Linked DNA regions of Homo sapiens. The protein of the gene in region 1 interacts with the protein of each later gene in a pairwise test. Each region holds a gene or a part of one and is shown in the gene's direction. Other genes may lie near its edges. The genes, in order: TRA2A, CRABP1 and C11orf58.

Region 1 (3,656 bases):
TAATATATATATATTTGTATATATCTGGAAGTTTTATTAGACCTTAATAATCAGGGTGTTTTTCTTTTCTTTTCTTTTCTTTTTTTTTTTTTTTTTTTTTTTTTTTTTTTTTTTTTTTTGAGATGGAGTCTCGCTCTGTCGCCCAGGCTGGAGTGCAGTGGCGCGATCTCAGCTCACTGCAAGCTCTACCTCCCGGGTTCATGCCATTCTCCTGCCTCAGCCTCCCGAGTAGCTGGGACTACAGACGCCCGCCACCATGTCCAGCTAATTTTTTGTATTTTTAGTAGAGGCAGGGTTTCACTGTGTTAGCCAGGATGATCTCAATCTCCTGACCTCGTGATCCACCCGCCTCAGCCTCCCAAGGTGTTGGAATTACAGGTGTGAGCCACCGCGCCTGGCCAAATAAGGCTATCTTTTAAAAACAGTAAGTTCTTGGCATCTGGTGGGTAGAAGCCAGGAACACTGCTAAATAACCATACAGTACACAAGCTGGCACCCCATAACATAGAATCAGTCTCAAAATGTCAATAGTGCTAAGGTTGAGAAACCCCGGATAACTCTAACAAACTAGTACTTTAGTTTTTAAGTCATTTATGTCACAGGCAGTTTAATGCCTTAATTTGTCAGTCTTATGATTTTTTTTTTTACTGTTACGTATTTGTGATTTATATATTCCTTTTCTCAATTAAGAGATACATGTTATCAATTTAGAAATACTAGGATATCTGAGCTGAAGTAAAAGTTGCAAAATGCAAGCCAGAACAGTGTAATTTTTTTATTATTAATATTTTTTAATGTGAAACGTGTTTATCTCTTGATTCCACCTGTCCCCTTCCACTTCTGGATAAAACTAAAATGGCAGGCCGGGCACAGTGGCTCGCACCTTGTAATCCCAGCACTTCGGGAGGCTGAGGCGGGCAGATCACCTGAGGTCAGGAGTTCAAGACCAGCCTGGCCAACAGGGTGAAACCCCATCTGCTAAAATACAAAAATTAGCCGGGCATTGTGGCAAGCGCCTGTAACCCCAAGCTACTCGGGAGGCTGAGGCAGGAGAATTGCTTGAACCTAGGAGGCGGAGGTTGCAGTGAGCTAAGTTTGTGCCACTTCACTCCAGCCTGGGCAACAGAGTGAGACTCCACTTCATCTCAAAAAGAAAAGAAAAAAAAGCTTAACTGGCAACTTTAAAGACAGGAGCAGTTACTTAGTGGCAGGATTAGAAGTTCCTTTTAGTTCACTAGGTGACAATATGTTACTTAAGGAGCGGGGTGACGAGGCTTGTCAGCTAAATCACAGTTTCTCTTTTCAGTTGCCCAGGCTGAATTCTCAGCTAACACAGGCATGTTGTATGGTTTCTTCTGTATGGCTGAGACTGTCTCCAGTCTTTAGGGACAGGCAATCTGAAGTGATTTGATTTTTTTCTTTTTTTGTTGTTTGTTTGTTGTTTCTTTGTTTGTTTGGAGATGAGGTCTTGCTCTTTGCCCTGTCGCCTAGGCTGGAGTGTGGTGGCACGATCTCAGCTCACTGCAACTTCCGCCTCCCAGGCTCAAGTGATCTTCCCACCTTAGCCTCCCGAGTAGCTGGGACAACAGGTGCGCACCACCATGCCCGGCTAATTTTTGTATTTTTTGGTAGAGACGGGGTTTTGCCCCATTGCCCAGGCTAGCCTCAAACTCTGGACCTCAAGTGATTTGGCCTCCCCAAAGTGCCAGGATTACAGGCATGAGCCACTTCACTTGGCTAAAGTGATTTTTTTTTTTTGAGACGGAGTCTTGCTCTGTTGCCAGGCTGGAGGGCAGTGGCACAATCTCGGCTCACTGCAACCTCTGCCTCCCGGGTTCAAGCAATTCTGCCTCTGCCTCCCGAGTAGCTAGGACTATAGGTGCATGCCACCACACCCAGCTAATTTTTGTATTTTTAGTAGAGATGGGGTTTCACCATGTTGGCCAGGATGGTCTTGATCTCTTGATACCTCATGATCCCCCCATCTTGGCCTCCCAAAGTGCTGGGAGTACAGGTGTGAGCCATCGCGCCCAGCCTAAAGTGATTTTTAAAATCTTTTTAAAATTTGTATTCCTTTTTGACTAACTTCTCCCTGATTCTGAAAATTTCACTGAAGTTTCAAAGTTATTAGTGTGCATATGGTGAAGATAATAATATAAGCTCCTCACCCTGTTTTAGTAAGAAGTACTTAGAGATTTTGTGTGTGTTTTTTTGGGGGGTGCTTAGGATGGGGTGCAGGGAGATCAACTTAGAGAATTTTGATTTTTGGAACTTCAAATGGAAGATGTGTTAAATTTGTTGCAGCTTTGCTTTTGCAGACATTTATGTGATGTAAAGTTCTTTTTAAAAATTGGACCGGGTGTGGTGGCTCATGCCTCTAATCCCAGCACTTTGGCAAGAGGATTTACTTGAGCCCAGGAGTTTGAGACCAGCCTGGGGAAACATAGGGAGACTTGGTCTCTACAAATATATATATGTGTGTGAGAGAATAGGAAAAAAAAATTGTCCCAGAAACAAATAATACTCTCAGAGTTCTTTTCAAAGAGACCAAAGAGACAACTCTTATCTTCAAGAATTAGGCTGTGCAAGGCGGCTCATGCTATTTGGGAGGCTGAGGTGGGAAGGCCACTTGAGGCCACGAGTTAAGAGACCAGCCTGGGCAACAGATCTTGTCTCTACAAAAATAAATGCATGCAGGCCAGGCGTGGTGGCTTACGCCTGTAATCCCAGCACTTTGGGAGGCCAAGGCAGGAGGATCACAAGGTCAAGAGATCGAGACCATCCTGGCCAACATGGTGAAACCCCATCTCTACTAAAAATACAAAAAATTAGCTGGGCATGGTGGCGCATGCCTGTAGTCCCAGCTACTTGGGAGGCTGAGGCAGGAGAATCACTTGAACCTGGGAGGCAGAGGCTGCAGTGAACCGAGGTCACGCCATTGCACTCCAGCCTGTGCAACAAGAGCGAAACTTGGTCTCATAAATAAATAATAAAATGCATTCCATTGAATGGAATACTGTTTAGACCCCTTCTCTACCAAGAATTTTTGTTTTAATTAGCCGAGCATGGTGGCACAAACCTGTGGTCCTAGCTACTTAGGAGACTAAGGCTGGAGGATTGCATAAGCCAAGAAGTTTGAGGCCACAGTGAACTATGATCCACTGCCAGCCTGGGCAATGGAGTGAGACCTCCTTTTTTTTTTTTTTTTTTTTTTAATGACCTTTAGTTTATGGGACACTCTTACGGAGAAATATTTGTGGATACATAAAAATTGTGTAGTTTTTATTAGTTTATTATACTTTTATTAGTTCAGTCTCAATAAAAGGTTGAAAGGCATTACGATAAATTTGTTCTTGTCTGTTTATATCATTTCTTCTTGGCTGCTCACTGAGTCTTAATCAGTGTACTAGACTGCAAACTAAAGAATAAGATTGGGGGCAGGTTATAAAAAGAACATGTATAAAGCTTAGCAAACCCTTTTTAATGTTCTGAAGTCAGTCTTTGTAAGTGAAATCGCTGGAGACTAGAAAGTATGAAATGGCAGTCTACCTGGGCAACCTACAAAAAATTTAGCTTGAAAAGACTTCAGTCTCCGCTCCCCTGTTGATCTCATGGAGTGGGGAATGGGAATTGAACCAGAACTGGAAAATTATTTA
Region 2 (2,843 bases), on another chromosome or scaffold:
CTATAAGTTGCCTTCCTTTGAAAACTGAGTATACTCCCACAAACCACTCTGGAATATTCTACAGAGAGTTTCTGTCGGGAACCTCTAAGCATAGTTTGCAGGCTGAGAAGGGCGCTTCAAATGTGGTTGGAAATGCGGCGATTTCTTCTCATGTCATGAAGCTATTTGTTAGCTGGGGAGAGCTGTCAGCTAGTGAGAATAGTTTCTCCAGGGTACAGCGTTCAATACCCAAATGCTGGCAGCCATTTGACAATCCATGGCTGTAGAACTCAAAGAATTATGGAAAATTAACATGGTTCTGAGGCGTCCAGACATCTGCGAGGTAGACTTACGGTGGGAAAGTCAAGCCCCACACCCCCTAGCATGCAGAATCACCTGCATTTCTTCCCAATAGAGAAGAGGCTAGGACAAAGGTGTCCAGGAGTGGGTATAACTGCCAGTCTGGTCAGGAGATCCCTAGCATGAAAAGCTAGTGGCTGGGTGCAGTGGCTCACGCTTGTAATCCCAACACTTTGGGAGGCTGAGGCAGGTGGATCACTTGAAGTCAGGAGTTCGAGACCAGCCTGGCCAACAAGGTAAAACCCCATCTCTACTAAAAATACCCAAAAATTAGCTGGGCATGGTGGTGTATGCCTGTAATCCCAGCTACTTGGGAGGCTGAGGCAGGAGAATCACTTGAACCTGGGAGGCAGAGGTTGCAGTGAGCTGACATCACACCATTGCACTCCAGCCTGGGTGACAGAGTAAGGCCGTCTCAAAAAGAAAAGAAGCTAGTGATGGGCATCTGCTTCCTCAGTCACTAAGGACTTGAACTATTTCCCTGAAGCACACGTGTCAGGATAATGTTTTAGCATATGTTCTCTGAGAGCATCTCGTGACCAACTAAGATGGCAGGGTAAGAATATAAAGATCCTAGGATAGCTAAATGCCTCGTTTAGTGGTTTTAACATCTCTGTAATTTCAGGCCACTTTAAGAATCTGAAAGATAAGGACCTTCTGGCACATAAATGTACATTTGCAAACAAACATACTCACATCAGGTTTACAGACTGGGGAATTTCTGTTTCTTGGTTTTTGTTTTTGTTTTTTTTTTTTTTAACATACATATTGCTTTCCCTGTTCTAACTGCCTGTGAGAGGTCCAGGAGAGCAGGCCTGTGAGTAATTGCTAGTTTTGGGGGAAAGTTGAGACAGTTTACTTGTGGGCAATATCATTTCAGGGGCCAGCAGAAAAATGTCCTCCTCCATCTGTGCAATGATTCGTGTCCTCCCTACAGCAAACAAACTAAGAGCCATAGAATTTTAGCTGGAAGAGCCTTTGCGATGATCATCTTGTCAACTCCACCCCTCTCCTCAACACCAGCCCCTGCCTGCCCCTTTCCCAAACAGGCCACGAGAGGAAAACATTTGCCCCCAAGCTTAGCCAGCTGTGAGCTGCAGGGGCTAGGTTTGGATGCCAATGCTGTGCTTTTGCAGCTGAGACCAATTTTCTAGCTTGCAGGTGACTTGAGTATTACATATACAGCATCTCAGCCTGTCTCCCAGGTTAGATGACTGCTTCCTGGAAAGCAGTTCTATTCCTTCTCCAAAGCAAGGAACAGAACTGGCTGGTGAGTGCTGGGCCTCATGACCCCAGCTGCCTGAGCTTCTTTCTATCTTGAAGTCATTTGAAAAGAGACAGAGCCACTTCAGAAATGTCCATTGTGACATTCTTTCCCTTTCAGTTTAATTTTAAAACCAAAACTCCTGGCATTTCTTATGTCAGCATTTTACAGGTTCCATAAGCAAAGGAAAATGGTATATAACATAATTCTATACTCTGGTTACCTCTTTACCAATAGCGCTTAAGGGGGAAAAAATATCCCTTAATGCTTAGCCTGAGCACACACACAGGAAATTGAATGTCTGTTACAAAGAGTTTTTAACAGGGCAATAAGTGGCCTTATTAGTGATATGCTTTAAACATTTTTGCACAGGCATCTGCACTGATTGGTTTTCCTTTTCTTCTTCTCTGCAGACGTTTGGCGCCGATGACGTGGTCTGCACCAGAATTTATGTCCGAGAGTGAAGGCAGCTGGCTTGCTCCTACTTTCAGGAAGGGATGCAGGCTCCCCTGAGGAATATGTCATAGTTCTGAGCTGCCAGTGGACCGCCCTTTTCCCCTACCAATATTAGGTGATCCCGTTTTCCCCATGACAATGTTGTAGTGTCCCCCACCCCCACCCCCCAGGCCTTGGTGCCTCTTGTATCCCTAGTGCTCCATAGTTTGGCATTTGCACGGTTTCGAAGTCATTAAACTGGTTAGACGTGTCTCAACCTTTTCCCTTTTTTGGTTTGCCTCTTCAGTTTCAACGTGGGAGTTATTGTGTACCTACTGTCCTTAGCACTGTGTTGGTCTGTGCGGTACTCTCAGCTTTGGCCTGCTGGCCTCGGTGTGGGGCTTTGAGCATACGTCAGCAGTTGCAAGCTGGGCTCCCGCAGACTGGCTGGATCCAGACTGCAGATCCAGGTGTGATTGCACCTCCCAGTGTGGCTGTTCAATTGAATTACTTGGTATCAGTAGTTCCCAGCAGGAAACGGCACATTTAAAAGGGGTTAACAGGGAAGAGCTCATAATGAAGGGACTGTTTATACTGGCAGGATGAATAGAGCCAGCAAAGGATGGGGAGGCACCCAAAGACAAGCAGTGGAGGGATTCACCCCCAGGCCTGAAGATAGAAGGGAAAGAGGGGTCACCAGACCATGAGAGCTATAACCTAGGAGAGGAGCCACTGCCAAAACCATGGCCCCAGTGTTTATGGGGTCAGGGGAGACTTGGCTTGGAACAAGGGGGATAAACATCCT
Region 3 (3,656 bases), on another chromosome or scaffold:
TGCTTGGGAGGCTGAGGCACGATAATTGCCTGAACCAGAGAGGCGGAGGTTGCAGTGAGCCAAGATAGCACCATTGCACTCCAGCCTGAGTGACAGAGTGCAACTCTGTCTCCAAAAAAAAAAATTAGAAATGTATAATAGGTAAACATGTTACATATATAAAGTATCAATTATCATGTACTTTGATTTTTAAAAGATGAGAGAGTATATGTCATTATGATATTCTAACCAAGAAACTAACCTTTTTCTGTCTCCATTTTTACTGATTCAGAACATATATTTTAATTGTAGTGAGGTTTTATGCCTCAACTTGTTAACTCTGGTATGTACAGAATTTTTGTTCTTTGTATATTAGCATATAATGTCATAGTTGGCATTTGGTTTTGTGTATTCACTAAATTTTGTTTTAAAATCTTTGAAGAATATAAACTAGTTGCAGGGCCTAAAGAAATAAGCTTTTAAAATAATTTTAGGGAAGAACATTTTTAAATAAAAACTGAAAATGAATTTGGGTATTTGGTGTGCTGAAAAGTGAAATTTTTGCCTATTTAAAACTGACCCTAATCTTGGACATTAGTAATAAAAGGCACATATTAATAAAAGACACATTGACCTAGATTATGTTTAACAAAACTTTAAGTTATTTAAATTATGCTAACACAGCATATGTAGCACATTTTAGAAATTCATAGATCTTTTATTTTTCTAGTGTTAAACAATTACTTCAAATTGATTTGTATTGCTACATAAGGCAAAAAACAATTCCTGAACTTTGCAGAATGGAAAAATATTTCAACTGCCACATTTACTCTTTTAAAACTGAGAGCTTTAAAGCAGGAGCTCCCAATCCCCGGTACCCATCCCTGGCCTGTTAGAAACTGGACCACATAGCAGGAGGTGAGTGGCACGCAAGCCAGAGAAGCTTTATCAGTATTTACAGCTGCTCCCAATGGCTTGTATGGCCACCTGAGCTCCGCATCCTATCAGATCATTGGCAGCATTAAATTCTCATAGGAGCATGAACCCTATTGTGAACTGTGCAAGCCAGGGATCTAGGTTGTGCCTCCTTATGAGAATCTAATGCCTGATGATCTGAATTGGAGCTGAGGTGGTAATGGGGAGTGGCTGCAAAAACAGATTAACATTAGCAGAGAGGCTTGACTGCACAGAGACCGTAATCAATCAACTGCTTGCAGACTCATATCAAAACCCTCTCAGTGAGTGGCAAGTAACAAGCTGCATCTAGTGGCAGGTTTTAAGTCAGAATCTGACATTTAATCTGCATGTGGCCTGCCCATTACTTATTTACCACTTCCATCCATGTCTCTTTCCTGCACTGTGCATTTGTCTCAGTCACAGTTTTGGTAAGCCCACAAGCTAACCCTAGCCAAAATGAGTAAAAAAACAAACGTCCTTGGAGAGCTTCTTTGAAAAGGGGGAAAGACCCAATGATGAGACAGCAGAAGACTCTAATACTGCCAACAAAGAGAAAGTGGCATTTAAAAGAAAATATCAAGAGTCCTACTTAAATTGTAGGTTCATTGCAATAGGTGATTCACATTCTCCAAACCTGCTTTGTCTAATATGTGATGACCAGCTATCCAGAAAAGCCATGAAACCTTTAAAAGTGCTTCACCACATGGAGACCAAACACCCTGCATTAAAAGACAAGCCTTTGGAGTTTTTCAAAAGAAAAAATCGTGAACGCAAAGAACAGAAGTAATTATTGAAGGCCACCACTTCATCAAATGTGTCTGCAGTGAGAGCATCATTCTTAGTGGCTAATCACATTGCTAAAGCTAAGAAGGCCTTTACTACTGGTGAAGAGTTGATCCTGCCTGCTGCTAAGGACATCTGTTGTGAACTCTTAGGAGAGCCTGCAGTTCAAAAGGTGGCACATGTTCCTCTTCTGGCTAGCACCATAGCTAGATGAATTAATAGAGGATATGAGGCACAGTTGTTAGAATTAATGAGTCACTGTGGTACCCAATCCAGGTTAATGAGTCTACCAGTGTTGACAGCAAGGCAACAATGCTTGTTTTTGTGTGATACATTTTTCAGGAGGATGTGCATGAGGATATATTATGTGCACTTTTGCTTTCAACCAACACCACAGCTGCAGAACTATTCAAGTCTTTAAATACATATCAGGAAAACTGAATTGGTCATTTTGTATCGATATATGCAGGGATGGAGCAGCTGCCATGACTGGACGGCTTTCTGTTTTCACTACTCAGGTCAAAGAGCTTGCTTCTGAATGTGAGTCTGTGTACTGTGTCATCTGTAGAGATGCTGGCTAGTTGGAAAATGCCACCTGAACTTACCATTTTGTAGGATGTGCTTAAAATTTTCAACCACATTAAAGTACATGCCCTTAATTCACATCTGTTCATGTAGCTCTGTGAGAAGATAGACACAGAGCACACGTCTTCTCTTATACACAGAAGAGAGACGGCTTCCTAAAGGTAGATCACTGGCCACTGTTTTTCAGTTACAATAGCTGCTCCAGAGATTTCATTTTAGAAAAAGTCACCACTGGCAGCACATTTCGTTGACACAGAATTGGGTCACAAAATTGCTTACTTGGCCAGGCATGGTGGGTCACGCCTGTAATTACAGCACTTTTGGGAGGCCAAGGCAGGCAGATCACTCAAGGCCAGGAGTTTGAGACCAGTCTGGCCAAAGGGGAGAAACCTCGTCTTTACTAAAAAATACAAAAATTAGCTAGGCATGGTGGCACATGCCTATAATCCCGGCTACTCGGGAGGCTGAGGCACGAGAATCACTTGAGCCTGGAAGGCAGAGGTTGCAATGAGCCGAGATCATGCCACTGCACTCCAGCCTGGGCAAGAGAGCGAGACTCCCTCGAAAAAAAAAAAAAAACTTGCTTACTTGTGTGACATATTCAATCTGTCACCTCAGGGGAGAACAAAACTGTGTTCAAGTTGGCAGATAGAGTGGCTGCATTCAAAGCCAGACTAGTATTATGGGGGCCACAAGTGAACATTGGGATTTTTTGACATGTTTCAAACATTAGCAGAGATTTTAAAAGAGACTGAGCCAGGACCTTTTTTCTCCCAGCTGGCACATGATCACCTATCTCAGCCTTCAAAGAGTTTGAGTATTATTTTCCAGCCACGAAAGAGCCCCGAACTGGGAAGGAATGGATTCACAACCCATTTGTGAATAAGCCAGGTGAATCGACTTTGTTCATGCTAGAAGAGGATCAGCTGCTTAAGATCACAAATGATGTTGCCCTTAAAAGTATGTTTGAGACAACTTCACATCTCCATACATTCTGGATTAAAGACAAAGTGGAACATCCTGAGATTGCCACGAAAGCACTGGAAAGCCTGCTTCCATTTCCAACCTCCTGTCTTTGTGAAACAGGGTTTTCTGTAGTGACAGCAGCCAAACAAGATTACAGAGTAGACTGGACATAAGCAACACACTTAGGGTGTCACTGTCTCCCATCACCCCTAGATGGGACCGTCTAGTTGCAGGGAAAACAAGCTCAGGGCTCCCACTGCTTCTACATTATGGTGAGTTGTACAATTATTTCATTATATATTACGATGTGATAATAATAAAGTACACAATAAATGTAATACACTTGAATCATCTCAAAACCACCACCACCCCCCTCCATGGAAAAA

Evidence for each region.
Region 2: the proteins of TRA2A (region 1) and CRABP1 interact in a two-hybrid assay, tested with the Homo sapiens proteins (one large-scale study listed by BioGRID and IntAct).
Region 3: the proteins of TRA2A (region 1) and C11orf58 interact in a two-hybrid assay, tested with the Homo sapiens proteins (one large-scale study listed by BioGRID and IntAct).

What each region holds. Positions count from the first base shown.
Region 1 is NC_000007.14:23,507,834-23,511,489, reverse strand, and holds part of TRA2A (transformer-2 protein homolog alpha), read left to right. Parts: intron 1-3,656. UniProt on the Homo sapiens protein: Sequence-specific RNA-binding protein which participates in the control of pre-mRNA splicing.
Region 2 is NC_000015.10:78,345,911-78,348,753, forward strand, and holds the end of CRABP1 (cellular retinoic acid-binding protein 1), read left to right. Parts: intron 1-2,016; coding exon 2,017-2,067; 3' UTR 2,068-2,315; downstream 2,316-2,843. UniProt on the Homo sapiens protein: Cytosolic CRABPs may regulate the access of retinoic acid to the nuclear retinoic acid receptors.
Region 3 is NC_000011.10:16,748,633-16,752,288, forward strand, and holds part of C11orf58 (small acidic protein), read left to right. Parts: intron 1-3,656.